2 separate regions of the Homo sapiens genome follow, and region 1 is linked to region 2. The links come from fine-mapping of genetic effects on plasma protein levels. Region 2 holds a variant in brackets. A gene starts in the other region. All regions are shown on their reverse strands.

What was found. PIP is the posterior inclusion probability: the model's chance that the variant is causal. Protein levels are from antibody-based Olink assays in UK Biobank. Linkage for the fine-mapping came from a reference panel and not from the study's own genotypes, which makes the PIPs less certain.
Region 1: SPESP1 starts here. The variant in region 2 is fine-mapped to the plasma level of the SPESP1 protein (UK Biobank, PIP above 0.99).

The regions. Positions count from the first base shown.
Region 1 is chr15:68,923,320-68,939,801 of GRCh38, reverse strand. It overlaps SPESP1 (sperm equatorial segment protein 1), which reads right to left and starts at 9,277. Exons shown (of 2, transcript NM_145658.4): 1 at 9,085-9,277. The coding sequence starts at 9,148. SPESP1-NOX5 (SPESP1-NOX5 readthrough) reads right to left here and starts at 9,277. Exons shown (of 17, transcript NR_033672.2): 1 at 9,085-9,277. RefSeq lists a silencer at 12,401-12,601.
Region 2 is chr19:20,966,659-20,983,140 of GRCh38, reverse strand. LOC112268247 (a long non-coding RNA gene) reads right to left here and starts at 10,983. Exons shown (of 2, transcript XR_002958424.1): 1 at 10,624-10,983; 2 at 1-249. The variant A/G (reference allele first, on the strand shown) is at 10,389.

The sequences.
Region 1 (16,482 bases), not on the chromosome of region 2:
TTACTACTAGCTGATTCCTTAACAAACTGAAATATTTATTATCCCCTTCTATTGTTACTCAGGCAACACCCAAAAGCCTGTTCTTGGCTGCCTAGCAACAGAGTGCACTACCTCCTACCTCGATTTTCCTCTGTTCTTCATGTACCCTTGGCTCCATATTTTTCTATTGTTAATTCCATCCTCTCTCCACACACCTTCTACCTCCTGCTTTTGTCCCCTAAAACATCTCCCTATTTCATGTTGACCTTCTCAGTTCTACTAATCAGGTCTGCTCTTGCAAATCAATTTGATCTTTATAAAAATGTTTGTAGGTCAAGGTAGTAAAAGATAGTGGAGCCTCAACTGTCCCTACAGATGGCTGTGGCCACTGTGAAAACCTGTTTTTCTCCATTCTTCAGGAGGTGCTAGAAAGCTGAACAAAATTCAAATTCTTACAAGGAACAGACAATCTTGCTAGAAGTTGTGTTATTATACTTGGATATTCATAGTCTACACTGGTATACTTTATAATATCCCATCTATTTTTACCAGTAAGTGATTAAAGCAAACATGGCAATGTCCTAGAACATGGCTCTGGCCCAGGTAAGAATCTTCAGCTTGGGAAACCATGATGCTGCTCTCCAGTTCCTCTTATAAGCAGGATGGCTAACTGCTAAGCAGGCTTGAGATTTTGCTGGAATCTCAGATATGGGGCCTGAAGGTGAGCCTGAGGTTGCCTGCACTTCTCTTCTTGAAATAGTACAGGAAGAACTGTCACACAACAGAAATGGTAAGAAAGTAAACAAAATGGTACTAAATAACTGTAGGAACAAAAGTGGTAGGAAATCCAAAGGGGAAATGGAAGATAATGATTTAAAAGATCCTAATAGCTTCCACTGATTGAATGATCACTATGTGCCAGGCACTATACCCAGAGCTTTGACTGTGAGAAGTACTTTGTCAAAGAAGAAAAGGAAGAGACTTAGAAAGGATAAGCAATTTGCTTAAGATTATATTCAACTTATAAGTAAGGATGAGATTTGAACACAGGCTGCCTTACTTCAAAGCAGGTGCTTGTAACAACCACACAATGTTGTCATAAAGAAATGACACAAGGATGCTGGCAAAGCTGTATTAGTGTTGTGATAAAATTATTCTGCAGGGATACTACTCTGTTTTAAAATACATGTGAACATTAAATAAAATCAAATAAATAAATATAGTATCCGAAATTGTGCTGTCAACTGGACCAAAATATTTTAAACTACATGTAAATATTAAAATTAAATTAAATTAAATATGACCAAATTTTGTTCTATCATCAAATGGACCAAAATGCATCCCTTTCGCATATTAAGATGTATCTAGTAATATTGAAAATAATCCAAATACAGTATTTTCTTACTACAAAGTACAAGTAACTGACAATCAATGACTTACAAAAAAATACATCCCGTTCACACAGAAATAAAAGGCAAGTTAATTACTTTTGAGTTTATTATGAGGAAAATAATAAAATCATGATTTAAAATGAGCAATGAAATATAAAATTTCAGGCTGCGCTTGGTGGCCCACGCCTGTAATCTCAGCACTTTGGGTGGGTCAACTAAGGTCAGGAGTTCGAGACCAGCCTGGCCAACATGGTGAAATCTCATCTCTACTAAAAATACAAAAATTAACTGGGCATGGTGACATGCACCTGTAGTCCCAGCTACTCTCGAGGCTGAGGCAGGAGAATCGCTTGAACCCAGGAGGCAGAGGTTGCAGTAAGCCAAGGTTGTGCCATTGCACTCCAGCCTGGGGGACAAGAGTGAAACTCCATTTCAAAAAAATAAAATAAAATAATAGATAAATAAATAAAATTTAAAACTTCACTCAATAAATAATACATGTGAAATATATTTCCTTTTCATAGAATGACCAATTAAAGGAGGAAGAGAATAACATAAAAGCCAATTTGCATGAAAACTTGCTAAAATTCATTGTTCATAAAAGATATGCAAATTAAAAACAATTTTTGTTTTGCCAGTCAAGTAGGCAAATATTTTTAAATGATAAAACCTAGGACTGGCATGTGTATATGTTACTTCCTTAGTAAAATAAGTTCCCTCCTACCCAGAGAGGAGAACAATAAAACCCATTTCCCATATCCCCTATACCCCAGCCCCTGGAGAACACACACCACCGCCTGTTGGTGGGTGGGGGGTGAGGGGAGGGAACTTAAAGGATGGGCCAATAGATGCAGCAAACCACCATGGCACACGTATGCCTATGTAAGAAACTGCACGTTCTACACATGGATCCTGTTTTTTTTTTAGAAGAAATAAAGAAAAAAAATAATAAGTTCCATCCTTACTCCCCTTTTGATCCCTAGATCCTTCTTTAGTCTCTCTCTAGCATACTGATCTTTTCTTTATAGAATTTAGACAGTTCTAACTGTATTTGTTAGTTTAATATTTGTTAACTGTTACACTTAGTAAGCTCTTTGAGAGCTGTGACACATCTAATTTGTTCATTATATACTCTGTTTTACCCAGTGCCTAGAACCATACTAGACAGTCAAAAAGTATGAATAACTGAATGAATGAACAGAATGCTGGAAGGTATGTAAATTAATTGCACTTCTAGTAATTTATCTTACTAAGATAATCACAGGTAAAACATTTCTACAGAAGAATACAGAGGAAGAAAACTAGACTTCATGTTATGTTTAAAAATAAATCTGTTAGTCTAAAAACTATTGTGTGGGGAGCAGTTTCTGGCTAATTGTCCAATAATTATTACAGAGAAAATTTTAAATGAGTAATAAGAATGTTCTTTTATTTTAGGCAAAGTAAGCAGTTTTTTATAATAAAAGACACAGCTTACTACGTCTTTCTAAATTTCTAAGTGTGAAGTTTATATAAAATAACATCATAAACATCATGGTGAAATAGCTCCATTTCTCAGAGAGCCCCCATACTTCTTGTAACTGCCCCTTACTAAATAGCCTAATGTAAGTTTAGATCACATAAACTTATGTTCTACTAATTACCTTTCATTGAATTTTATCAATCTCTAAAGTAATACTGCATTGACATAATTTTAATGTAAGTAAATCACAATCTTAATATTAAAATACCTCCATAATTTACCTTTTATTTATCTTAAAGTATGAAATTCAATGGTTTTCAGTATGTCCAGAGTGGTGCAATCACCACCACAATCTAAGTTTAAAACAGTTTTGTCATCCCACAGTAAAATCCATTTCCCATATCCCTTATCCCCCAGACCCTGGACAACCACTAATCTACTTTCTGTAGCTACGCATTTGCCTATGCTAGACATTTCATATAAATGGACTCATACGATATGTGTCCTTTTGTGAGTGGCTTCTTATACTTAGCGTAATGTCTTCAAGATCATCTATGTTGTAGCATGTATCGGTACTTCATTGATTTTTATGGCCAAATAATATTTCATTGTGTAGATACACATACATTTCTACTTTGCCCTTGGCCAGTAGCCTTGATATGGCAACTGCTGATTGCACCCAAAATTTAATCACCAATTATGGATGCTCATTTTGTTAAAGATTTGAATATAACTAGGATTTTTATTACAATGATAGTGAAAACAAAATGGCTTTATCCATAAAGAACTCATGTATATAAAACTTAAACATATACCCAAGCATCCATCACTTATAGATGGTCCACACACTCTGGCTGAATGTCCATAACTTTGGAGAACAAATTGCTTGTATTTTCTATACATACCATGAAGTGGACTCATAAAGAATAAACTTCCCTTATTCTACAGCAGTTAAGTACTAAAGTAAGAATTAATAACTGAAAGCTGTAATAATGCAAGAACTACCAGTTAAAATATCCAACACCTTCAAATTAAAATGAACTTTTATGAAGGTTAAAATTTTAAAACGAACTGAGCTGGAGTACTGTATTTCCAACTCAAAGTAGTAATAATTGTGCTTAATTACTGAGGTGTACTCAAGGAATGGTCATAAAAGGAAATATTAAATCTTCTTATTCATCCAGCAATTTTCTTATAATTTATTATTACACAAATCTTAATTTTTGCTGACAGGTAAATAAACAAGTAATTATGTTCATATTAATCAAGTGTTCCAGTTAAAGAAATGTAACTTTATGGCTTTACACTTCCTGCTATTCATGTTCTTGGGTAGTGTCTTCTGACATTGGATATGGGCTTGCCCCATGTGACTTGTCTTGGCCTATAGGACATTAGCAAGTCTGATACAGTGTAGGCTTCGTAAGAGCATCCATGTTGGGGCTTATAAATCTCCTTCTTGGAAGCAAGCTGCCATGGTGTAAAGAAACTTGGGCTAGAGTACTGAAAGATGAGAAGTCATGTAAAGACCCTGGAGGATGAGAGGCCATCTGGGATGTTCCTATCCATTTGAACTTCCAGCTGAATGCAGCTGCATGAGTGACCTCAGCTATACCATATGAAGCAGAGCTGCCCAGCTGAGTCTAGTGAACCCATAGAATCATGAAAAATGATAAATTTGGGGAGCAGTCATTTTTGCCACAATACACAACCAAAATAGCCTTATTAAATTATGTTACAATTCTAGTGCGGATAAAGAGTTAAAAATCAAGATGCATCCTATGAGTAATGTTATAATTGAAACCAAAATAAACTCATTATTTTAAATCTTTCTCTTCTAGTTCTGTTCACTAAAATGACAAAAATAACAATATTTCCCCACTGCAGTAGTCTAGTATGTATCGCAGGCACTTTGGTCTCTCATACCATGTTCTCCATCCCCTTGGAAAGACAGTTAATTCCATTCAGAGTGAGAAAGATAGAGTGGGAAAGACACAAAGTGGGCTTGGAACAATCAGTTAACATCAGAAAACAAGAAGTCTTTAAAAATATATGGGATCCTATCAAAAGAACAAGAGAAGACAGCTTACAATGGCTCCAAATGGTCAAGGTATGAATATTTGAGGCTCGGAAAAAACTATACTTAGGTTAAATAAATTGTGTGTTTTTAAAATGCTTCAAATATATAGTGATACTAAAAAAAAAAGAAAATATTTTCTTTTCAAATAACTAGTATTTTATTTGGAGATAAAAAATGTTGCTTAAGTTTAATTTCACATATATTATCAAGAGATTAAAGTATATCCATTTAAGGGATAATATGATCAACAGAACAGAAAGACAGGACTTTTTTCCCCCATAAAACATCAATGGACAGGCTAATGAAACTTCCTGCTACTCCCCCACAGAATACTCTCTTGACACTTGCCTATTGGATGACATGCTCCTCATTATCTCAAACATTAACAAAGTGTGTCATGACAGTTTATTCACAGGTTTGAGAGACCTTTTAAATGCTGTAGCCTTGGGCACTAGCTAAGTGAACTTGCAGCACCAGAACTCAGTGAACTTTACCTTTAGAATGTATTTGAAATAAAAGAATATTCTTTTCCTCTTAATTTATTTGGTGATAGATTCAAACAATTGTTGCTGGTTGCTGCCTTATTGTTTCCCTTACCTTCTGTGGTTCATTAGGACAAAATCCTTCCTAAACACAATGACAGAAGCCAAAGACTGATACATTGAGCCTTCTTATAATACCAATCTAGAAATAAGAGCTTTTGTAATCCTAGACTAACCCTATTTTTCCTAGTCTATACCAAGAGATGATCTAGAGGAAATAATTTATTTGGGAGATACCCCAAAATTAATATTTTAATTTTATTTATACTTATTATGCAAAGTTTGAATCATTTAAAAATTAACATATATTAATATTAAATTAATATTAACACACTTTAATTTTAATTAGTTTGCACTGCCAGCCCATGAATATTTGATGACTTAAAATTTAAAAAGGCCAATTATATAATTTTAATAGTAGTTGATATTATTTAAATATGTAACTATTATGTTAATATTACTTTAGAAGTTACTGTGCTTTTTTTTTTTTTTGAGACAAGGTCTCACTCTGTCAGCCAGGCTGGAATGCAGTGGCGCCATCTCAGCTCACTGCAACCTCTACCTCCTGGGCTCAGGTGATCCTCCCACCTCAGCCTCCCGAATAGCTGGGACTACAGGCCTGCCCCACCACATCTGGCTAATTTTTGTATTTTTTGTAAAGACGGGGTTTCGCCATGTTGCCCAGCCTGGTCTTGAATTTCTGGGCTCAGGTGATCTGCCCGCCTCAGCCTCCCAAAGTGCTGGGATTACAGGTGTAAGACACCGTGCCCGGCCTGTGCATTTTTTTTTTTTTAAAGCAAAAAGAATTCTCATTAAAAAGTAAAGTAAGTTGCACAGTGCAAATACATTAAAGAGGGAATACATTAAATACTTTCCCATTCAAAAATTTAAAAATGGCAAAGTATTTAAAACTATGGAAAAATCAGGTAGAGGAAACTGAATGTATAAAAATTTTATATAGTAAAACGTTGTTTCTCCAGCACCATCAGGATGTGTGTGTGTGTATGTAAAGGAGTGCCGACTTCTGTATACCCAAGCTGCATTTATGTCTAACTGAATTTAGATTAAACAAATACTAGCTAAGCTTGGATTGGGCCTGTTAGAAAGGTATAGGCAGATACAAGAAGTACTGAGGTTTTCAATAAATGCAATTACTTAATACACCCGTGATGTTTGCGTAATAACCTCAAAACTGTCTAGTAGTCTAGAAAAAATGTGTCAAAGCTGCACTTTTCATTATAAAAACCTATGTACCTTATCTTTTGCATCTCGCCAACAATTGTTTGAATAGTGGCCATATAAAAGAATGCATAGCTGATTTACATCAAGCTCAATGATATACGCATTTTGGTATACTTATTTTAAAAACAAAATTAAAATTAGAGAAAAAGTAGAGAGACAGATACAGAGAAAGCAGCCATGTACCACTGCCTGCTCTATATATTCCTTAATCCACTTCTGTAGAAGAAAGGTAATTACATATTCCAAGACATCTTCTATGATTACAACCTGTATATAGTTTCCTTATGTCTTATAACATCTATATATTCAACACAAAATCACTCCTTTTTTCTGGGAAGCGTCTTTTCATTTCCTACAACCCTTTTCTTTCTTCCCAAGAAAGATTAGGGAATAGGGTGCTAAGAAAGACAACAGGCTGGCTGGGCACAGTGGCTCAAGCCTGTAATCCCAGCACTTTGCAAGGCCGAGGCGGATGGATCATTTGAGGTCAGGAGCTCGAGACCAGCCTGGCCAACATGGTGAAACCCCGTCTCTACTAGAAATACAAAAATTAGCCAGGCGGTAGTGGCGTGCGCCTATAATCCCAGCTACTCAGGAGGCTGAGGTGGGAGAATCCCTCGAGCCTGGGAGGCAGAGGTTGCGGTGAGCCGAGATCGGGCCACTGCACTCTAGTCTGAGCTAGAGAGTGAGACCCTGTCTCAGGCAAAAAAAAAAGGGGGGGAAAAGGGAAGGGGAGGGGGAGGGGAAAATTATGGTGTTAGGCAAGAGACTGCACTGAGTTAAGTGGGTGTCCAGGGACTCCTACCTAGCAGTCCCAGAGTGTACTGTGTGACAGTGTTAAAGTCACTTCAGTTAAAGTCTCCATATATGTTAGTCACTTGTGACTTGCTGATCTACAACTACCAAAATGCAATAACTGGTGTTAGTAATAATGATCATCAGACATCAAGAAAAGATAGTAGCATCTTCATTATGTTCTGGTCCTCTATGTCAAGGAAGAAAAATTTTACAAAACTTTTTATTAAAAACAGCTACAAATCATAAATGCTAGTATTTAAAGAGCTAACTTTAGTTACCTAGAACTTCATCTAGAACTTTTCCCATTACTATTCATAATTTAGATTGTGTTGTATTTTCAGTTTTTAAATTTGATTTTTAACTAAGATCGTTTAGCAATTCTGAAAAATAGATTTGCATAATCAGCATGCACGATAGCGCTTTTTTTACACCTGTTAAATTGTATTTATTGATTTAAGTGAAACCAAACTCCAACATTACTAAATGCCACAATGAACTACAGTTAGACTAAATGGGGAAGCCTCACCTACCTGACTTAAATACTAAGTGCCTTAAGGTGCCCACATGATATTGTTAATATAGTAAAGTCTTAGCACCCCTGAATTTGACCTTATTGGTTTTCAGCTTTCGGGGAGGGACAAAAATTGCTCCTTGGCAGGTCTTAAGTTATAATCCTGCTTAACTAAGGCTTTGAATGCCGTGTGCGCAAGCATGCTCTCTGGGAGCGCATCCTCAGGTGAGTGTCCCAGACCGCGACCCACAATCCACATGCTCTCCAAATTTTACCGTACGGGTCAACCTTTTTTTCTGTACAGGGCCAGAGAGTAAATACTTCAGTCTTTGCAGACCAGACTGTGTGGCAACCACTTAACCCCGTTGTTCTAACGTGGGAAAGCAGCCATGGGCAATACGTAAAGGAATGAGCGTGGTGGTGTGCCAGTAAAACTTTATTCACGAACAATGAAATGTGAGCGTCATGCTTTTCCACAAGTCATGAAAGAGTACATTTCATATTTACTTTGAAAATGCAAAAATAGAACATCACACACCAGGGCCTGCCGTGGGGTGGGGGGAGGGGGGAGGGATAGCATTAGGAGATATACCTAATGTAAATGACAAGTTATGGGTGCAGCACACCAATATGGCACATGGATACATATGTAACAAACCTGCACGCTGTGCACATGTACCCTAGAACTTAAAGTATAATAATTAAAAAAAAAGGAAGAAAATGTAAAAATCATTCCTAGCTGGCCAGCAGCTGTCACACGACCCCTGCACGGTCACACGCCCAATGGCTGGGGAAGGATCGGGTGGGCAGAGGAAGGCCTCCGGTGAGGTGAGGGGGTTCCACCCGCGCCCACGGCCCGCAGGCGCTTCCCGTCTCATCTGGGCCGCGCCGCCTCAGTTGCTGCGTTCCCTGACCAGGAGAGGAGAGGGACACCCCTCGGCGTCGAGGCCAGGACCCCGGACAGTGGGGGAGGGAGGCATGTAGGACCAGGGAGAAGGAAGGGCCAGGCTTCGAGGTCGCGGAGCTCGGGAAGTTCCCCCAGGGTGTCCCCGGTCCGCTGCCTCCTCAGGCCCGTCACTCACTCGGATAAGCCGGCACAGACGAAGGCCATAGCAAAAGCGCAACTAGAAGGACTAAGGGCTTCATAGGCGTCGTCCGTAGCACTCTGCCATGCGACCGGAACGTCCTGGGGCCACCAGGCTGGGAACCTCAAGGCCGAAAGGGAAGGTGTCAGCGGAGTACCGTCCTGCCTCAGGCCCTGGGACACCCAGCAACGGTTGTCCCCAGCGCGCAAGCGCAGCGGCATGGGGGAGGGGAGAGCGAGCGGCCAAGGCCCGCCCCTCCTGGGACCGCGTGCAGGGGGCGGGGGATCGCGCGCGCCCCGCCCCGCCCCTTCCTAGTGCGCATGCTCGCTCCGCCTTCGTAGGTCCGCGCCTGGTGTGGGCTGGGAACGCCTCGACGCCCGGCTACTGCGTGCGGGGTGCTGCCTCGGGGCGTGCGGGGCTCGGCCCATCCTGCGCGGTAGGGATACCGCCGTGGTTTAAACGCGGTCCCTGTGAGGAAGGAACTGTAATGGGAGAGGCAGATAACCTGGCAATTACCACAGCGTGAAAGGGGGCTGTAGTGGGGGAAGCGCTAGGTACTGTTGTGCACAGTGGAAACCCACCCCCGGAAGCGGGTGGGGAGCTTGGCTAAGTGGAGGACAGCTTGGAGCACCCCAAGAACTGAGCATAGTTCCGGCGAGTTGCATTGTGGGGCTTGGGAGGGCAGTTGTTGGAGGACAGGGAGGAGAGGTAGGCAAGGGCATTAAAAACGCCCTAAGGGGCTTGGGTGTTTTTGTTTTTCAAAAGATCACATTCCATTTCTTTGACCTTCTTAAAAAGATAGGGGTAGGGATGAGGGAGAGTACGACTATGAAAGGATAGCATGAGGTTGTTTTGGGGACTAATAGATGGCAGTGGCCACAAGAATCTATACATGTGTTAAAATTCACAGAAGGCCGGGCACGGTGGCTCACTCCTGTAATCCCAGCACTTTGGGAGGCCGAGGTGGGCGGACCACCTGAGGTCAGGAGTTCGAGACCAGCCTGACCAACATAGTGAAACTTCGTGGCTACTAAAAATACAAAATTAGCCAGGCGTGGGTGGTGGCACACGCCTGTAGTCCCAGCTACTTGGGAGACTGAGGCAGGAGAATCACTTGAACCCGGGAAGCAGAGGTTGCAGTGAGCCGAGATCGTGCCACTGCACTCCAGCCTGGGCGACAGAGCAAGACTCCACCTCAAAAAAATAAATAAAAATAAAAATTCGCAGAACTGCACATCCCAAAGAATCTGTTTTTCTGTATGGTTATTTTTAAAAATTCACGTACACTCATCTCTGCCTCAGGAAGCAAGGGGCTTGGATTTTAGTCTGAGGCACCAGTACTAGAGTACTGCTAGGTTTTGAGCTGGGAACGGTTGTGATTAGATTTGTATTCCAGAAAACTCACTCTTCCTGTAGCATGAAGAATGGACTGGAGGGAAGCAAGACTAGAGGCGCCGGCGGAAACTGAGACTGCGCACGGCGCTTGCGGGCCAGCCCGAGTTCCGGGTGGGCGTGGGCTCGGCGGGCTCGGTGGGCCCGGCACTCAGCGCGGCCGGCCGTCCCCGCTGGCCACGGGCAGTTGGGGGGAGCTTAGCACCTGGGCCAGGAGCTGCTGTGCTCGATTTCTCGCCAGGCCTTAGCTGCCTCCCCGCAGGGCAGGGCTCGGGACCTGCAGCCTGCCATGCCTGAGCCTCCCTGAGGAGCGCCGCTCCCTGCTCCACGGCGCCCAGTCCCATCGACCGCCCAAGGGCTGAGGAGTGCGGGCGCAGGGCCGGGGACTGGCAGGCAGCTCCACCTGCGCCTGGGTGTGGGATCCACTGGGTGAAGCCAGCTGGGCTCCTGAGTCTGGTGGGGACTTGGAGAACCTTTATGTCTAGCTAAGGGATTGTGAATGCACCAATGGGCACTCTGTGTCTAGCTCAAGGTTTGTAAATGCACCAATCAGCACCCCGTGTCTAGCTAATCTAGTGGGGACTTGGAGAACTTTTGTGTCTAGCTCAGGGATTGTAAATGCACCAATCAGCACCCTGTCAAAACGGACCAATCAGCTCTCTGTAAAGTGAACCAATCAGCAGGATGTGGGTGGGGCCAGATAAGGGAATAAAAGCAGGCTGCCCGAGCCAGCAGTAGTAACCCTATGGAGTCTCTTTCTGTCGTGTGGAAGGTTTGTTCTTTCGCTTTTTGCAATAACTCTTGCTGCTGTTTACTCTGGGCCCACACTGCCTTTATAAGCTGTAACACTCGCTGCGAAGGTCTGCCGCTTCACTCCTGAAGCCAGTGAGACCACGAACCCACCGGGATGAATGAACAACTCAGATGGGCCACCATAAGAGCTGTAACACTCACCATGAGGGTCTACAGCTTCACTCCTGGTCCAGCTAGACCACGAATCCACCAGAAGGAAGAAACTCCAAACACATCCGAACATCAGAAGGAACAAATTCCGGACATGCTGCCTTTAAGAACTGTGACACTCACCACGAGGATCCACGGCTTCATTCTTTAAGTTAGACCAAGAACCCACCAATTCCGGACACATGTTGAGGAACCAATGTCTCCAGCCAACAGCCAGTAAGGACCTGAGGCCTGACAACAATCAGGTGAGTGAACTTGGTAATAGATTCTCCCCAGGTGAGCCTGGAGTTGACCACAGCCCGGCTGACATCTTGATTGTAGCTGCCTGAGAAACCCAGAGATGGAGGCACCCAGCTAAGCCACGCTTAGATTCCTGACTCACAGAAACTGTAAGACAGTAAGTGCTTGTTAAATGGAGGAGGAGAAAGCATTTGCGTAAGCAATAGCTACATACAAGGGTCTCTGTTGATTTGTTCCTTGAAAGAGACCATGCTTGGAAAGGCACCTGCAGTTGGGTACACTACTTAATTGAGTTAATAATTGTCAGTCATTCTTCCAGGTCCATCTGTTTTCATTACCAGTCAAGCTGGAAGGCAGGTATAAATTAAGATAATTGATTCAGATATTTTAGGGTGACACTATAGCTAGTCAACAAGGGATTGTTATAACTTGTGCATTACTATTTTGATTGGGGGTTGGAGAGTGTAATAAAGCTCTGTGGATTCTTCATAGTCTTTTCTATCTTGCTCACCCTTGTTCTAAAGGTTAGGAAACCAATGTGAAGATTCTGCCTTATGTCCTTTAAATGTACACTCAGGAATTGGGGAAAAAACACTGGAAGGGTTTAGGGTTCCATCGAACTTACTGTAAGGTGGACTTGGGTTAAAATTCCTTTAATTACTTCACCCCTGTAAACCCCACTCTAACCAGTGAACTACTGTGGCATACTGCGATTTTCCTTTTTTTTCAGTGCATATTTATCCCTAGATGATCACTGGTCCCTTTGGAGAAGGCTAGGAGTTAAGAATCACAGCACATACTTATCTCATTGTATTACTACTGAATTCGTCAAGGGTTTCCTGCTTTCCCTTCACTTAGGAGACTGGATTTGTGAAACACACTGCAGTTTGGGGATTGAATGAGGAACTGCAAGTGAGAGGTTCAAGTAGGATGTCTTTTAGGCCCAGAGTTGGAGTCGTTTTTCCCTTGTTTGGTTATAAAAACCCCAATAAGACTTTAGCAGTTTTCATCTTGTTAACCATTAAAAAGGAAACGGTGAAATAGCCAAGGTATATCCTAATTGTGGAATTCCAGTTTAAAAAAAAAAATGTTGTAGCTCTGTACTCCATGGTCTATGTGCTAACATATAAAATTCTCTAAAATATGGTGTTGAGTAAAAAAGTTCAGAAAAACACATATATCCACTTATGCAAAATTACACCAGTTACATATTTCCATGAATTCATCTGAAATCATTCTGGAAGGAAACACAGTAAGCTGATAATAGTGCTTACTTCCAGAAAGAGAAATGAGATTGGAGGAGAACAGGGGATTTTGAAGGGAGAATTTTGCTTTTTACTTTTTCTTATCCCTTGAATTTTTTGAAGCAAGATTACTCATGTAATTAAAAATAGAAACAGTAACTTTTTACAAAATCTAGTGAAGAAAGGAGGGCTAGTGGTAGAAATGTCTTATTATGCCTCATGTTTTCCTTTACTGACTTCACTGAAATATTTTTGAAGTGGCTAATTCACTACCCAGAGAAAAGTAGCCTGCATTTCTGCTTCACCTCTGGATTCTGTAGACTGTTTTGATAGGTAATCAAACAGTATCATTTACTGTTATGACTTTTTTTCAGGGATGTATTTTATCTCCCCTTTATAGTTGTTTTTATGCTGTCTATTTTACACAACACCTTGCTGGTGCTCAATAAAGACTTAATAAATAGCAACACATGCTCTTCCAACCTAAAGGAAAAGAATCCTTCCCCACTTTCCCCCACCCTCTTCCCCTAGAGCTGTCAAAATTCTGTTTCAAGGCTCAAATGCCACATCTGCTGGGAATCTCCCCTCCATCATCCCTCCAGTTAGAATGTATCATATCTTCCCTATCCCATATTTTCATAATGCTGTATTGTAGCCATTATTTCACCATAAATTCTGTATTTTATGTTTTTACAAGCCAGGCTTCTCTAGACCAAGGTCTTTGAGGGAAGGAATCTGATCTGAGTTATCCCTGCATCACAACCTCCTAAAACCCAGCCAAAGTAGTGTGCATTCATCAGGTGCTCAATAAATGCATATTTGAGTTCAATTGAAATCAAAAGACTGGGAATTTTTATAGAATCTTAAAAAGATCGCTGGGAATCTTGTAGAATTTTTACAGACCCTTAAAAAGAGCTAACAATACTAACCCAGCTACAGTGACAACTTCCAGCACAATCTTCAATCTCCAGAAGAAACTCCTCATCTCGAAGTGTCTTAACTCTATTATTTAAGTCCAGGTGAAACGAATAACAGGTGGTCTCATCTGTTCTTCTCTCTGTATATCATGCAAGTAATTCTAGACAATAAATTCCTGATTGTGAAACCACTATGTCAAAATAAATGTACCAGTTTGCATATCCATCAATAGTATAGTAACTAATACTGAGTGGCATCATCTTTGAAGACCAGTCACGTCAAGTGCCATATCTTGTTTTAACCTGTTTGACTTTGTTTTTCAGTGTAGCAAAGTGTTCTGCCTACTCTCCCTGTTCCCACCTTGGATTTTCCCTGTATTCCTTCTAGTATACATCTAACCCCACACTTACTGTTTTTTATTCTTTCTCCTGTTAACCCAAGTGATGAGTTAATAGGCTATGGGTTAGCCAGAGCTATATTTGTCTCCCTAGAAGAAGTATATTTGGGAAGTCCCTCCCCTCTTATCTTAGGTCACTTCCTTAATCCTTTCTTACCCCGCCCACCCCACCCCCCTCCCCGCCCCGTCCCGCCCCGCCCCATTCTCCTGGGACCAATGCACTGAGCAGCTAGGACCACAGCTCTAGCTTAATTAACACCAATGCAGTTTTTTACATCTCAGATCTCAAACATCATGTCTTAACAGCTCTTGGCCCCATGTGTGGAAAAATAGTTGAAATTAAATACTATTAAATGAATGAATACCCCAATCCCTCCATGCATTTATCCATCCATCCAACTATTCATACATCCACTCTGCCCTTGTAAAAATCACTGTAACATTATCAGCATGAGAGCACCGGCAGCTTTGTCAGAGAAGGACTTCAGCCACCCGGGGGCAGTAGAGCCTCACCAGTGGCTGGGATGGCACTTGTGGTTACATCAGAGCATCTCTCCAGCTGTGACTCTAGAAACTGAATTTTGATTTTGCTGCAGTAGATCATGTTTTGCTATTGTGTGTTTTGCTTTACTCTCATGCACTTGGAACGTACCAAATAGCATGTAATAATGTTTAAGTGATTTAATAGTAATAGCCTTTGTTTTCCAAAGAAGATTTTCTTCAGTGCCGGCTACGTAGAAGAATGTTACATCCAGTCTTTTCTCTGACAAAGCTAGTCCACATGCAGTTACATTATAGATAGTCCTTGGCTGAAATCAATTCATGAAATGAGACCTGGGAGCACACAGAAGAAGCAGGCTGACCCTTGGGAATGCCCACTGTCTGCACGATCTGCCCCACCTGATGTAGGCAATATACACTTTTTAAATTTTTTAAAAATTGTATTTTTTTAACTTTTATTTTATATTCGGGGGCACATGTGCAGGTTTGTTACATAGGTAAACTCGTGTCATGGGAGTTTGTTGTATACATTATTTTATCACCCAGATACTAAGCCTGACATCTGGGCCCTGAATAGGCTCTGTGGGATGTTTTTGATTAATAAATGGATGGCAGAGGAATCCTGGAGTGTAGATGGTGATCGCTGGGAAGGGGTTACAAGTGTGTGAACCTCACAGGATTTTTAGCTCTGTCCAGGAAAACCCTCTTTCCTGTTGACTCTACCAAAGTCAGTGTGCATCCCTGTGAAAGTCTGAAAGTATAGCTGGGGACTTACAGAGATGCTAGGACAATGATTTATTGTCCTGTGGACTCATCCAACTAGGAGGGTCCTGGAATTCTAAAGGAATACTCAATACAAATTTAATTTGTATTCACTTAGCTTTTGTAAAATTATGTCCTCACTAAATAGAAAGATTCTTAAGGCAGAGACCATGTCTTTTTGTGTTTGTACCCCAGGGACTTTTCACAGTGCCTGGCAGAGTTTGGACACTACGTATGTGCTGAATAATATGTGAAATTTTCTGATGGGTGCCACGAAGTCAAATAGAAGATGACTTTGGGTAAGGAGAACCTTAATCTCTGAATCTCATTGTGCTTATCCCTAAAATAAGAACCCTTTGTATTTGAATTATGCTTAAGTCTAAACCTTACATATAGATCAAATATATTTCCTTTTACACTCACAAGCATACTGGGAGGGTAGGCTAAACAAGTGCTGTATGAGCATCCCAGTTCCACAGGTGAGAAAACTGGGACTCAGACTAAAAGACCTAGCCAGGTCACTCAGCCACATCCTGATGAGCTGAGACTACAAGACCCAGGTCTTTTGACTCTCAGTACAGCACACTTTGACTATACCTTTGTGGATTACAGGGGATAATTGGACTAGTCAGTCTCTTGGAGACTTTCTTCTAGCTTCAGAAATGGTTCTCAGGCCACACTGAGAATTAGTTCAGAAACTTTTTAAACATAACCAATAATCAAGACTGTGTGGTATTGGCAGAGGAGTAGACACATGTATCAATGGAACAGAATAGAAAAATCCAGAAATAGACTACACAAATATGTCCAAGTGATTTTTCACAAAATGCAAATGCAATTAAATAAAGGAAGGATTGCCTTTTCAATAAATGGTACTGGAGCAATTGGATGTGCACAGGTAAAAACATGAACATCAACCTAAATTTCACACTTTATATAAAAATTAACTCAAAATGGATCACAGGTATAAATCCATAA
Region 2 (16,482 bases):
GGAGACACTAAAATTCCAAAGTCTGGGTACGGTTTCAACCCTGCAGGTATCTGATCTTTGCCTTCATTCCTCCTGTTAGTCTTAGTAAAGAGTCCTGGAGTCTGCAGTTCCCAAGCCTTCCTTGGTTTCAGGTTCTGCTTGTCCTTATTTGGTTCAGGGGCTGTGGGACAGGACCACATTAGAGCACTTCACTGGGTACCTCCTGGTCCTGGCCATGTGCCCTAAGACCTGGTGGTTCTTGCACTTTCTCTGTGGATTGAGGAGAAAGGAGGTCAGTGAGTCAGTATCATCACAGGCAGCTTTCAAAGGTTAATGTTGCAACAGTTTTTTGGATCTGTTTATTATTTTTAGGACTAGACCCAGACAAGTACCATACTGGGTTTCTAAAGATTCATGATGTAGGCTACGTGTGGTGGCTCATGCCTGTAATCCCAGTGCTTTGGGAGGCCAAGGCGGGCGGATCATGAGGTCAGAAGTTTGAGACCAGCCTGGCCAACATGGCGAAACCCCATCTATACTAAAAATACAAAAAATTAGCTGGGTGTGGTGGCAGGCGCCTGTAATCCCAGCTACTCAGGAGGCTGAGGCAAGAGAATCGCTTGAACCTGGGAGGTGGAGGTTCCAGTGAGTTCAGACCACGCCACTGCACTCCAGTCTGGCTAACAGAGCTAGACACCATCTCAAAAAAAAAAAAAAGTTTCATGATGTAATAGTTATATCCACAACCTATTTTAAACAAAGAAACAAGAACAAAGAACCAAAATGTGTTAGGGTTGTGATAATAATCTAGCCAAATTTGTCAGCTCAGATAGTGAATGCTGAGCAAATTCTACAGAAGACAATGTAGCACCCAGGATGACTGAGGGAGGGTGAGGTAGAGGAGAAGCTTGCTTCTCCAGCTGGGCTCTTTGCTGCCTTAGGAATCAGTGGTTGATTGAGTTAGCACTGGCTCCTATCTGATCAATTCAATGTGATCACATTTGATTTAAGTATCTCTTCAACATTCAAGAGACAAAGGCATATTCTATTTGGAGTTTGGTTGTTCTGCATTTTATTTTATTGTATATTTATCAAATGCAATCAACTATAATTTGATATGTCATTTCCAAGCATTTGAAAAATTGTGACATATAGGTATACAATTTTAATGGTATATGTAATTTTCTTTTTTCTTTTTTTTTCTTTTTTTTTTTTTTTTTTTGAGACAGAGTCTCACTCTGTCACCCAGGCTGGAGTGCAATGGTGCAATCTTGGCTCACTGCAACCTCTGCCTCCTGGGTTCAACCGATTCTCTCACCTCTGCCTCCCGAGTAGCTGGGATTACAGGCACATGTCACCCACATCCAGCTCATTTTTGTATTTTTAGTAAAGCCGGGGTTTCACTACGTTGGCCAGGCTGGCCTTGAACTTCTGGCCTCAAGTGATCCGCCCGCCTCAACCTCATAAAGTGCTGAGATTACAGGTGTGAGCCACCGTGCCTGGCCTTTATGTAATTTTCTTTATGTGTACAATTTAAATATACCTGTTAATATATGGTCTGTTTAATTTAGCATTTTAAAATCTGGCCAAGGTTTTTAATAGTTCTGGGTGAAAAGAGGGCTAGAAATCAAAAGGGGATGAGTCTCTTGACTTTCAATTTTCATGCCTACTGGTTTTTTTTTTTTCTTTTGAGGCAGAGTTTCACTCTTGTCACCCAGGCTTCAGTGCAATGGCATGATCTCGGCTCACTGCAACCTCCACCTCCTGGGTTCATGCGATTCTCCTGCCTCAGCCTCCAAAGTAGCTGAGATTACAGTCACTCGCCACCACACCTGGCTAATTTTTGTATGTTTAGTAGAGATGGGGTTTCGCCATGTTGGCCAGGCTGGTCTCGAACTCCTGACCTCAGGTGATCCACCCACCTTGGCCTCCCTAAGTGCTTTGGTTACAGGTGTGAGCCACCTCACCTGGCTGGTTTTGTTATTTTGGTTTTTGATGCTATGACAGGACCCTGAAAAAATCTCCCCTTATGTGTGTCTAAGGTACCCAGTAAATCACAACCTGAAACATTCCTTATGAAGGCCATAATGTCTCCAGGAAATAAATTTCTTGTCATAAGAGTGAGCCGTACCCAGCTGAGGGGCTTATAAAAGGCAAGTCCAGCATAACACCCTGCATTCTGAGTCTGGATGTGTAAGAGAGAGGACATTTCATTTGAGTTTCAACATGGAATGGGAAACTGAAGACCAAGATCTTCTCTACCTCTTCATCCAAGGCCCCACTTGCCAGCTCCATTTTCAACAAATCTTTTTTACAGATAGAAGCTTAGATGAGGAGGAGAAACTATTTGAAAAAAGACAAGGTGCTCTCTTCCCATTCCAGTAGGTAATGCACTCAAATGCCAGATAAGGCCTTGGGCTGTTCATATTAAGATCAGAAAGAGTGGTGGAATGAGGGATAGTAAGCTGTGTGTCTTTGGTAGGGTTTTATTTTGAGCTAGGGAATGAGAAATGGCTTATATCCCTGAGATGGCTTTGAGAATTGTAGTAATGATCCCTTGGAACCGTATTCTTCTCATTAACTCTTGATGCTTGCTGAACAGCCTTAGTTAAGAAAATGAACAACAAATGTAAGTCAGGAATAGACTATGGGACTCTGGATCTAGAGAGATTTGAGTCACCTAAACTTCCTTTCTGACTAGGACCAGACCACAATCCAAATAAGAAAGAGAATTACAGAAAACTAAGCTCAAAACCAGAAACAGCACCGCTAGATCAGGTAGGATTTGAATCAAGGTGAGAAGAGATAGGATATAGATGAACACAGTCTCCCCTGGAAAAACATTGAGAGCTTTTTTAAATGCAGAGTTTTACAGATCCTGGACTCTGGAGAACAGAGAACTGAGTTTTGGTGACAATCTTGGCTTCAGTGCATCCACAATGGACTAGGGCTTCTAAGGTGTTCAGTTCGAAGCACTCACCTGCACTTTGTTTTTTTGTTTGTTTTGTTTGTTTTTGTTTTTGTTTTTTTTGGAGACAGGGTCTCACTCTTTCACTGAGGCTGGAGTGCGGAGGCATGATCTCGCCTCACTGCAACCTCTGCCTCCCGGGTTCAAGTGAGTCTCCTGCCTCAGCCTCCTGAGTTGCTGGGATTAAAGGCATGTGCCACCAGGCCTGGCTAATTTTTGTATTTTTAGTAGAGACAGGGTTTCCCTATGTTGGCCAGGCTGGTCTCGAACTCTTGATCTCGTGATCCACCCACCTTGGCCTCCTAAAGTGCTGGGATTACAGGCGTGAGTCACTGCACCTGGCTGCTTTCTTTTATTTTACATGTTTCAATCGATTTTATTTTATTGTAGAAAATTTTAAATTTGATATATGTTTTGGGTTTTTTTTAACCATATTCTTGTTTTATTTTTCTGGTAAAATACATATTTTTATTGTAATAAAATGAGAAATGTAAAGATTTCTTTTGGCTGTAATGTAAGAGTTAAGGGAAGTAGAAGCAGGAGAGTGATAGAATTTTTATTCACTTTTAATGACAAAATATTAATAATAGTTCTCGTCAGAACAATCAGTCAAGAACAAGAAATAAAAGGCATCCAAATTACGGGAAAAAAAGTCAAACTATCTCTTTCTATGGATTATCTAATTTGATACCTAAAAACACCTAATAACTTTACTAAAGAGCTCCTGGAACTTATCAGCAAGTTCAGTAGTGTTTCAGAATACCAAGTCAATACGCAAAAGTCATTTTTATTCACCAATATTATTGAAGCTGAGGGCCAAATCAAGAACTCAATCCCATTTAACTTGCCACAAAAAAATACCTAAGAATGCATATAACCCAGGAGGTGAACAATTATCACAAAGAGAACTACAAAATACTGCTAAGAGAAATCATAGATGACATAAACAAATGGAAGTACATTATATTCACATGGATTAAAAGAATCAATATTAAAATGACCCCATTGGCCAAATTAATCTACAGATTCAATGCTATCTCTATCAAACTGCCAATAAAACTTTTCAGAGAATTAAAAAAAAAACTATTCTAAAATTTATATAAAACAATAAAGAGCATAAATACCCAAAACAATCTTAAGCAAAAAGAGCAAAGCCAGAGACAGCACTCTACCCAAATTTAAACTATACTATATGGCTACAGGAACCAAAGAAGCATATTACTGGTATAAAAGCAGACAGAGACCAGTGGAACAGAATACAAAACTCAGAAATAAAGCTACACACCTACAGCCATATAATTTTTGACAACATTGACAAAAATAAGCAATGGAAATAAGACTGTCTATTTAATAAATGGTGCTGGGATAACCAGCTAACCGTATGCGGAAAAAAATACTAGATAATACTGAACCCCTACAATTTGCCATATACAAAAATTAACACAAGATGAATTAAGGATTTAAATTTAAGACATCAAACTATAAAAATCCTACAAAAAAACCTACTAAATATCTTTTTTGACATTGGCCTTGGCAAAGAATTTTTGACTAAGTCTCCAAAAGTAAGCAAGAAAAACAAAAAGTGACAATTTCCCAACTTCCTAACTATTCTAAAGAGCTTCTGCACAGCAAAAGAAACTATCAACAGAGTAAACAGACAACCTACAGAATGAGAGTAAATGTTTGCAAACTATGCATTTGACAAGTCTAATTTCCAGAACCTATAAAAAAATTAATTAAAGAAGAATAAATAACCCCACAAAGATGAGCAAAAGACATAAACTGATACTTCTCAAAAGAAAACTTACAAGAAGCCAACAAACATAAAAATATGCTCCATATTCCTAAACATAATTTTGCTTTCAATGAATAGTTTTAGATCCCTGCTGTCTAGAAAATTTGGGGAATTTGTTAGTATAAAAAAAGAATTTTTTTGGCTGGGCGCGGTGGTGCATGCTTGTAATCCCAGCACTTTGGGAGGCCGTGGCAGGTGGTTCACCTGACGTCAGGAGTTTGAGACCAGCCTGACCAACATGGTGAAACCCCATCTCTACTAAAAATACAAAATTAGCGAGGCGTGGTGGGACATGCCTATAATCCCAGCTACTCAGGAGGCTAAGACAGGAGAATCGCTTGAACCTGGGAGGCAGAGGTTGCAGTGAGCCAAAATCATGGCACTGCACTTCAATCTGGGCAACAAGAGCAAAACTGTCTCAAAAAAAAAAAAAAAAGTAGTGCAGTGGTCTTGGCTGGTCTTGAACCCTTGACCTCATGATCTACCCACCTTGGCCTCCCAAAGTGCTGGGATTACAGGCATGAGCCACCGTGCCCCGCCCAATATGTTTTATTTTGAGATTAACCTTTTTTTCTTGAATGATTGACATTCTTCACTCTAGTTTAGTGGTAATTATAGAAATTTAGTAGCATAAAATGTTGCTCATATTTTAAAATCCAATTTTCACCACCAGCTTTTGATTCAGTAGTACTACTGGGTAGTGAGCTAAGGACCCACAAATTTAAAATACTTTCTAAATATTCTAAAGATTCTGTCGAAGAAAAGGTATTTTGATATTAACTTTACATTATCTGTAATATTCTTTTTCTTTAGTAAGCACAGTACTAAGTACTAGTCTGGTAATTGGAGAATCCAGCAAAACTCATGTTTCCTTTTTCTAATAAGACAGATCTTGCTGTGTCTAATCTGGGCCTGATCAACTCTCTGAAGCAAAGGAAAGAATCTTGGAATTTAGAAAGACAAGAGACCATAGCCAGCACCTAGGTAGGCGGGAGTGAAAGAAGATGACACAGCTGAGGTCCAAAGGTGAAGAAGAAAGCCAGACCATAAAATGTGGTTTAGGAAGGTCTGCTGCAATAGAAATAGTTTCTAAAATGCCTGATTTCTTTTCTCATACCCAAACAGTGGGGCAGCTTCTGTCCCATGGTCTTAAATCCCCCAAGAATTCTACTTTAATTTAATCTTCCTTCAAGCTTATACTTAGAGCTGAAGTCCATCTTATGGTTTATAAGAGGTTGAATAATCTGACAGGTCTTCCATTGCTATTGGGGGACATGAGACTATTTGTCTTTTAGAGAAACTCTGTATGAAACTATTTTAAATCCTTTCTACATCATTGCTGAAATGTGTGAAAGCAGTAGTGATATTGAAATTTGGTTTCAAAATCGCAAGAACACCAGATAAAGATGTGAGTTTTCTACTTTATGACTTTCTATTCTGTGATGGTTTCAGATGTGTTTCTAGAGATATTTGTACTCAGTAACTTTATCAGAACACTAAGTACCTCTGTAAATGTAAGAAAATCTATTTTTTTTTTTTAATTTTCAGGTTTTTTTTTGTTTTGTTTTGTTTTTGAGATGGAGTTTAGCTCTTGTTGCCCAGCCTGGAGTGCAATGGCATGATCTTGGCTCACTACAACCCCTGCCTCCCGGGTTCAAGCGATTCTCCTGCCTCAGCCTCCCAAGTAGCTGGCATTATAGGCACCTGCCACCACGCCCAGCTAAGTTTGTATTTTTAGTAGAGATGAGGTTTCACCATGATGGTCAGGCTGTTCTTGAACTCCTGACCTTAGGTGATCAATCCACCTCGACCTCCCTAAGTGCTGGGATTACAGGCGTGAGCCACTGCACCTGGCCCCGATTTTCAGTTTTTTTAATATAAATTGAGATAGGTAATTTAAACACTACATGACCAAATTTCTTATGGTAATGTAGCTTAATGTATTTATTGCATATATAATATATGTACATATATTATATATATGTACACATGTATATATTATATATACATATATTATATATGTACACATGTATATATTGTATATATGTACACATGTATATATTATATATGTACACATGTATATATTATATATATGTACACATGTATATATTATATATGTGTATATATATATATTTTAAAAGGAGTATCACTCTGTTGCCAGGCTGGAGTGCAGTGGCATGATCTCGGCTCACTGCAACCTCCCAGGTTCGAGTGATTCACCTGCCTCAGCCTTCTGAGTAGCTGGGATTACAGGCACATACCACCACACCCAGCTTATTTTTGTATTTCTAATAGAGACGTGGTTTCACCATGTTGGCCAGGATGGTCTCGATCTCTTGACCTTGTGATCTGCCTGCCTTGGGCTCCCAAAATGCTGGGATTACAGGCATGAGCCACCGCACCCAGGCTACCGTGTATATTTTTACAATATACTGTGTCATTGGGAAGCTTAGAAAATTGCTGAAGGCCAGGTGCCATGGCTCATGTCTGTAATCCCAGCACTTTGGGAGGCTAGGGTGAAAAAAACACTTGAGCCCACGAGATTGAGACCAGCCTGGGTAACACAGCAAGACTTTGTTTCTATAAAGAATTACCAAAAAATTAATTTATTTGTATGTACATTTAAAAGGAGGAGATTGATTTTTCTTCTGGAGAGTTATAATTACATTCAAAGCATACTTTTTGCATTAAAAAATTAAAATTCTTGAAAAGCAAACATTGATGCAATTCAACTCTTTTTTATTTTTTTGAGACAGAGCCTCACTCTGTCACCCAGGCTGGAGTGCAGTGGCACGATCTTGGCTCACTGCAACCTCTGCAGCCCAGCTTCAGGCGATTCACCTGCCTCAGCTTCTCAAGTAGCTGGGATTAAAGGCACCTTCCACTGCGCCTGGCTAATTTTTGCAGTTTTTAGTAGAGATGGGGTTTCACCATCTTGGCAAGGCTGGTCTTGAACTCCTGACCTCATGATCCACCTGCCTCAGCCTCCCAAAATACTGGGATTACAGGCGTGAGCCACCATGCCCGGCTGCAATTCAACTCTTAGATCACTTGTTATGCCTTCATTCTTAGTGTGTATACAAAAGCACATGGTTAGTTTTTGCTTCATCAGACCTATAAGAGGCACATCTCTATTAGACAAGCATCATTCACATAGTTTTTCATAGACACTGAAATGTAAGACATATCAAGAGATTCTAAGTGGGGAAGTGCTTTGTGGTTGATTAACAACAGCATGTGATACATGGGGTAGGTTTTTAGAGTAAGATTCCATGCATTATAGTAAGGGAGAAACATTTTAGATCTTCAATTCAAGTTGTTTTTCCAATTGCTTATTAAAATAATAAGATACAGTGGATTTAAAAAAAAATTTAGATTCTGTGTGAACTTAATTTGTTTTAATTAAGCATAATTGTTTTTGTTTCTACTATTGTGCATTGAACAAAGTATTATTTTTTTACCAGTGTTAACCTATCCAACCTAACTGAAGCTTGTAGGTAACAGATGATAACAATACACTATTGGTTAACATAGTTGAATAACATTTTTAGGGATCCCTTTTTTCAATAACTTTAAACATCAAACAGTTTAAAGAATATTGTTTCTATTGGTAATATTTTTATTCTTTTTGTAACTACAGGGCCATTATAATGGTAATAATGAAGATTATATAAAAGTACAATTTAAAGCCATGTATTTCTGAATATTGAATGAGTATTTACAAAATTTTATTCCACTTTTTTTTTTGCACATGTCACCTTTCTGACTTGCAAAATATATGCAGACTGATAGTCTTGTTTTACAAGGATAAAATATACAAATATATTCCTCTAAGGATAAATCTTAGAAGTAAAGGAGTTACGGAGTAAGTAATTGTGTTTGTGTGAGTTTGGGTGTATACCTATTTTGCAAAGAAAAGAAAAATATTGAAATAAAACATAATTTCCAAAGTGTTGATAATTTACTAAAAAGGCAAAAATGTCAAAAATTCTGAAAGCGAGTCTATTTTCTTTGCTTTATGTCGAGCTCACTTCTCTGAGATTTTATTGGTCCTCCATAGGATTCTCCCCATGCAAATCCCCCCGCCTTTTTTTTTTTTTTGAGATGGAGTCTCACCGTGTCACCAGGCCGGAGTGCAGTGGCATGATCTTGGCTCACCGCAGTCTCTGCCTCCCGGCTTCAAGTGATTCTCCTGCCTCAAGCTCCACAATAGCTGGGACTACAGGCGAGCGCCGCCATGCCCAGCTACGTTTTGTGTTTTTAGTAGAGACAGGGTTTCACAATGTTGGCCAGGATGGTCTCGATCTCTTGACTTCATGATCCGCCCACCTTAGCCTCCCAAAGTGCTGGGATTATAGGCGTGAGCCACCGCGCCCGGCCAATTGCTTTTTTTTCTTTAATATTAAAGGGAGTCTGGAGAAATAACTACAACAATCCCAGAACTGGCAAAGGGGCAAATGCTGGAAAACTCCAGGGTGGGAGAATGCCCATCACAGGGCCAAAGATCTGAGCAGATGACTCAAAAAAGAGAAAATCTTAATAGGTCTTAAACAACTGAAAGGTGACTCAAACGTGTCAGTTTAAAAACTGAAAGTGAAAGGGACAATGAGATTTTATTTGCCATATAGACACAAACTGACAACAAAAATTAAAAGAATGTAATATGCAGGAGAGCTTAGATACAGAGCAGCAGGTGCATCAGAGAATGCCAGCGCCGATGGACCTGCTACAGCCCTTTTGGAAAGTCATCTGGCTGTAACTGTGAACAGTTTACATAGACATCATTTAACCCAGTAATATATTTTCTGAGGATCTATCTTCAGATAATTAGTAAATGTTATGGGATAATTTGTTATTTTCTCAATTCCCAGGATAAATACTTTGTATCCTTCAATCCAATCAAGTTGACATTCAGTATTAACCATCACACCTGTGGACTCCATCCATGGATGAGTGTCACAATTCCAACTGTCAACTTTTCTGGGTGTGAGATTCAGAACCTCAACAGTGGGTTGTGTGCATGTGTGAGGCTGATAATTCTAACATTTGGTTGAGTATGCATACAAGAATCACAATTTTTCCTGTGTGCTGGGTTCTTTTATGACACTCTATGTACCAACCAAGTGCTTTATACAGCATGCATGAGAGCTGCAATCTTCCCTGAGACCTGCATGATGGTATAGACACATGATCTTACCTGTGGCCTTAAGCCCAACAGAAGAGTCAAAATGTTTCTTTTTTTTTTTTCTTTTTCAAGACAGAGTCTCGCTTTATTACCCAGGCTGGAGTGCGATGGTGCGATTTCAGGTCACTGCAAACTCCGCCTTCCGGGTTCAAGAGATTCTTATGCCTCAGTCTCCCAAGTAACAGGGACTACAGGTGTGTGCCACCACGCCTGGCTAATTTTTGTATTTTTAGTAGAGATAGGGTTTCATCATATTGGCCAGGCTTGTCTCAAACTCATGACCTCGTAATCAGCCCACCTCATCCTCCCAAAGTGTTGGGATTACAGGCATGAGCCACCGCACCTGGCCAAAAATGTTTCTTATTGGCTGGGTCCAGGTATGAGACTCATGATCATGCCTGTGGGCTTGGTCCAAAAATGAATGACCATCCCACCTGTGTCAAGATTCACATAGAAGAGTC[A/G]CAATTCCAACTGTCCAGTATGTTTGGCTATAAAATTGGGGACCTCACTAGTGAGCTGTGTCCATGTGTAAGAGTAACAATCCTAACTTTCAACTGGGAGTGCATGAGAGCCACAGTCTCACTTGCGTGATGGGCACTGTTATGACACTCTACCACCTGAGAGTTTTACGTGATATGCTTGAGAGTCACAAACCTCTCTGTGACTTTTGTACAAGTATGAGATCCATGACCTTACCTATTTCCTTAAGGCTAGCTATGAGAGTCAGAATGTCTCCTCTTCACTGGGTCCAGGTATGAGAGTCATCATTGCCTGTGAGCTGGGTCCAGCTAAATCTTACAATTCCCCCTGTGAGCCTGGCTCAGGCAGAAGAGCTACATCACCTGAAGGCTGGGCCCATGTATATATCGCAATCTCTCTTATGGTCGAGGCCCAGCAGAAGAGTCACATCACCTAGGTGTGGGGCCCAGGTATATTAAAGTCCCCTGTTTGGCAGGTCCCAAGCAAGAGAGCCACATCACCTAGGTACTGGGCCCAGGTATGTGTCACAATCCCTCCTGTTGCTTGGGCTCATGTTGGAGATTCACATCACCTAGGTTCTGGAATTAGCTCTACATCACAATCCCACCTATGGCCTCAGCCCAGGCAGAAGAGTTACATAGCCTAGGTACCAGGTATGTGTCACAATCCCCACTATGGGCAGGTCCCAGGTAAGAGAGACACATTGTCTAGGTGCTTAGCCCTGGTATATTGTCACAATCTCTTTTGTTGGCTTGGCCCAGGTTAGATGTACACCTCACATAGGTGTTGAGCCCAGGTATGTGTCACAATACTCCCTGTGGGGTGGGCTCAGGCTAAAGAGTCACATCATCTAAGTGCTGGGCCCAGGTATATGTCACAATGCCCCTTGTGACTTTGGCCAGGCATGAGAGTCAGAACACATAGGTGCTTGGTTCAACTATATGTCACTATCCCATTTGTGGCCTTGACCTAGGTGAGAGAGTCGCATGACCTATGGTCTGGGCCCAGGTATATGTCACAATGTTCTCTGTGGATTGGGCCCATGCAGGACAGCCACATCACCTTAATTCCTGAGCCCAGGTATATGTCAGTCCCCCTGAGAACTTGACCTAAAAAAGGCTCAAATCACCTCAGTACTCGGCCCAGTATTATGTAATCCCACTTGTGGCTTTAGCCTAGGCAGCGGAGTCACATATCTTAGGTGCTGTGGTAAGAAATCTGTCAAAATCTTTTCTTGTGTTCTAGGTCCAGGCAAAGTGTAACATCACCTAGGTGCTGGACCCAGGTACATGCCACAATCTACCCTCTGGGTGGGACCCAGGAGGAAGAGCAACACAACTCAGAAGATGGGTTCAGGTATATGTCACAATTACCTGGAGGCAGGGCCCAGGCAGGAAAGTCACATTACCTAGGTGCTGGAAGCAGGTGTGTTACAATCCTCCCTTTGGACAGGGACCAGGAAGGAGAGCTACATCACCTAGGTGATGGAAACAGGTGTAGGCCCCAATTTCAAATGTGGGCAGGGATCAAGCAGAAAAGTCACATCCACAGGTGTGTCACAATACTCTCTTTGGGTAAAATCCAAGCAAGACACTCACATCACTTGGATGCCGAGCCCACCAATGTGTCACAATCTCCCCTGTGGGCAGAGCACAGACAGGAGACTCATATCACCTTGGTTCTGGGCCCACTGATATGTCACAATCCCACATGTGGGCAGAGACAGGGCAAGAGAGCCACATAACCTGGATGCTGGGCCAGGAATATGTCACAATCCTTTTTGTGGGCAAAGCTAAGGCAAAATAATTATACCACCTTGGTTCTGGGCCCAGAAATATGTTACAATTTCCTCTGTGGGCAGGGCCCAGGAAGAAGTGTCCCATCACCTGGGTGCTTGGCCCAGCAATAAGTTACAATCTTCTTTGAGGGTAGGACCAAGGGAGAAAAGGAGACACATCACATAGGTGTCGGCCCCTGTAATATGTCACAATCCCTACTGTGGGCAGAGCCCTGGCAGGAGAGGCATATCACCTGAGTGCTGAGCCCAGCGATATGTTACAATATCTCCTACGGGCAAGACCCAGGCAAGAGATTTACATCACCTGTGTGCTAGATCCAGTGATATATCACCATGCACCCTGAGGACAAGGCCCAGAAAAAGAGTCACATTACTGGGTGTTTGGCCCGGCAATATACCGTAATGCCCTGTGTGGGCAGGGCCCAGGCAGCAGAGCTATATCACCTGGGTGCTGGGCTCAGCGATGTGTCACAATCTCACCTGTGAGCAGAGCCCAGATAGGACAGGAGAGTCACATCACCTAGCTATGTCCAGCATTATAGCAAAATCCCCCATTATGACAGGGCCCAGGCAGGAGAGTCACATCACCTGAGAGCTTGGGCCCAGGTATATCTCACAATCCTATTTAGGAGCCAGACCCAGGCAGGAGAAGCACCTCACTCAGGTACTAGGCAAAGATATATCTCACAACCACATCTGTGGAAAGGTCCAGAGAAGAGCTTAACAATTCCACACATGTCCTGGCTTCAGGTATGAGAGTCAATGCCTGTGAGTTTGGTCCAAGTACATGAGTCAGTCTTAAGGGTTAGCTGGATTTGTGCATAAGATCCCCAATCCTGCCTGCAGGGGACTGTGTTTCAGTAAAGGAGTCACAGCCTCACCAGTGTTCTGAATCCTGGTCTGAGAGTCATTATCCAACTGTGGAAAACATTCACGTAGGAGAGTCACAATTTCAACTTTTGACTGAATCCAGGTGTGAGATTAAGAACTTCGACAGCGGGGTGGCTTTATGATAGAGGGTGACAATCCTTACTGTTGGCTGGGTGTGCATATGAGAGTCACAATCGCTTCTGTGTGCTGGGCCATGTTATGAAACTCTGTGTAACCCAAGGGCTTTATACAGTGTGCAAGACAGTTGCTATCTGCTCTGGAAATTTGTGCTGGTATGGAGCCAGGATCTTACTCATTGTCCTAGGTACAAGAGTCAACATCTCTCCTATTGGTTGGGTTCAGGTATGAAAGTCATCATTGTCCCTGTGTGCTGTGTCCAGAAATGAGTCAGCGTCACACCTGTGGCCAGGCCTACGTATGACAGTCACAATTCCAACTGTGTACTCCTGTGAGATCCAGGACCTCACCAGTGGGCTGTGTCCATGTTTGAGGGTGACAATTCTGGCAGCTGAGTGTGAATATGAGAGTCATAATCTCATCTGAGTGCTGTGTTTTTGTTTTTGTTTTTTGAGACGGACTCTTGCTCTGTCACCCAGGCTGGAGTGCAATGGCGCAACCTCGGCTCACTGCAACCTCTGCCTCCCGGGTTCAAGCAATTCTCCTGCCTCAACTTCCCGAGTAGCTGGGATTACAGTCATGCACCACCACACCTGGCTAATTTTTGTATTTTTAGTAGAGACGGGGTTTCACCATGTTGGCCAGGCTGGTCTCAAACTCCTGACTTCAGGTGATCTGCCCGCCTCAGCCTCCCAAAGTGCTGGGATTACAGGTGTGAGCCACTGTGCCCTGCTCCTATGTTCTGACACTCTCTGTACCACTCAAGGGCTTTATATGATATGTGTGAGTGTCATAATCCTCTGTTATCTTCATAAAAGTAAGAGACCCAGGACCTTACCAGTTGCCCTAAATGTATCTATGAGAATCAAAATCTCTCCTATTGGCTGGGTACAAGAATGAGTTATTTTCACAGCTGTGAGTTGAGCCCAGGTATGTCGCACTCTCACCTGTGGGAAGGAACAAGGCAAAAGAGTCACATCACCTAGGTGCTGGGCCCAGTGTTATGTCACAATTCTTCCGGTAGGCAGGGCCCAGGCAGGAGAGGTGAGTTACCTCACCTAGGTGATGGAAGCAGTGATATAATTCCTTCTGTGGGCCAGGCCCAGGCAGGAGTGTCACCTCACCTGTGTACTGTGCCCAGAAATATGTCACAATCTTTTGTGCATAAGGTCCCCCCAAAATAAGTGAAATGACCTAGATTACAGGCCCATAGATCTGTCACAAAGCCTTCTGTGGGCAGAGCCTAGGCAGGAAAGTGATATATCACTAGATGCAGCATGTAGGTGATGTGACTCTCCTTCCTGAACTCTATTCCCCAGGGGACATTGTGACACATCACTGGGCACAGCACACAGGTGATGTGACTTTTTTCCTGGGCCCTGATCTCAGGGGGCATTGTGACATATTGCCTTGCCCGGTACCCAGGGCAGGTATTAAGCAGGAGAGGAGACTAACACCACCTAGATGCTGGGCTCAGGCACATGTCACAATCCCATCTGTGAACAAACCCAGGCAGAAGAAGAGTAACATCTGGGTGCTGGGCCCAGTGATATGTCACAATGCAACCTGTGGTCAGGGGCCAGGCAAAAGAGGAGTCACATTACCTAGGTGCTAGGCCCAGTGATGTGTCACAGTCACCAATTGGGCAGGTCCTAGACAGGAGAGGAGAGTCACATCGCCTAGGTGCTGAGTCCAGTAATGTGTCATAGTCCCAGAGCAGGGAGGGGGCAGGAGAGGAGATTCACATCACCTAGAAGATTGGCCCAGATAGATGTCACAATTTCTCCTTTGGGCAGTGCTAAAGCAAGAAGGTTACATTACCTGGGTGCTGAGCCCAGCAATATTTTACAATCCTTAGGGCAGGGCTCAGGCAGAGAGGAGATTCACATCACATGGTTGATGGGCCTGGCGATAGGCCACCATGCCCTGTGTAGGCAGTGCACAGGCAGGAGAGTCACATTATCTGAGTGCTGGGTCGAGGAATATGTCACAATTTTCTCTGTAGGCAGGGCCCAGGCAGGAGAGGAGAGCCACATCACCTAGGTGCTGGGTTCAATGATATGTCACAATTCCCTTGAGGGCAGGGCTCAGGCAGGAGAGTCACATAACCTAGGTGCTTGGCCTGAGTATATGTCACAATCACATTTGTGGGCTTGGCCCAGGCAGGAGAGTCAAATCATTCAGATTCTAGGCAAAAATATCTGTCACAATTACACCCGCAGAAAGGTCCAGGGATGACATTTACAATCCTGCACATATCCCGGGTTATGTATGAGAGCCAGTATCTCCTGTGGGTTGGGTCCAAGAATGCAAAGCAGTCTGAATGCTGGACTGAATCCCTGCATGAGAGCCCCAATTCCACCTGAGGTCCAAGAGTCATTATTCCACCTGTGGACCACATCCATGTGTGAGAGTCACAATTCCAACCTTTGACTCACTCTTGGTGTGACATTCAAAACCTCCACAGTGGTCTGTGTCCATCTGGAAGGGTGACAGTCCTTACAGTCAGCTGGGTGTGCATAGGAGAGTCACAGTCTCTTCAGCATGGTTGGCCCTGTTGACACTTTTGGTGCCACTTGAGGAATTTATATGATATGTGTGAATGTTGTTATTCTCTTTGACTTTGGTACAAGTAGGAGACCCAGGACCTTATCCATTGTTGTAAGCCAACCTATGAGAGTCAAAATCTCTTCTCTTGGCTGTGTCCAGGTATATGAGTCATTGTAGCATCTGTATACCTATGTAGGCCCAGGTATATTTAATAATCCCACTTATGGGCAGAGATAATGCAGGAGAGTCACATCACCTAGGTTCTGGGCCCAGTGATATATTCAGGATAAATGAATTACAATTTTAAAAATAAATATAGTAAAATAACAGGCCGGATGTGGTGGCTTGTGCCTGTAATCCCAACACTTTGGGAGGCCGAGGTGGGCAGGTAACCTGAGGTCGGGAGTTTGAGACCAGCCTGACCAACATGGAGAAACCCCATCTCTACTAAAAATACAAAATTAGCCGGGTGTGGTGGTGCATGCCTGTAATCTCAGCTACTCAGGAGGCTGAGGCAGGAGAATCACTTGAACCTGGGAAGTGGAGGTTGTGGTGAGCCAAGATCGCACCATTGCACTCCAGCCTGTGCAACAAGAGTGAAACTCTGTCTCTAAATAAATAAATAAATAAAACAAAATAAAATAAAATACTGTCATTACTTCTAGTTGACGTAACACAAGAATTCAGATGTTGTTGCTGTAGAAGCTCAATATGTCATG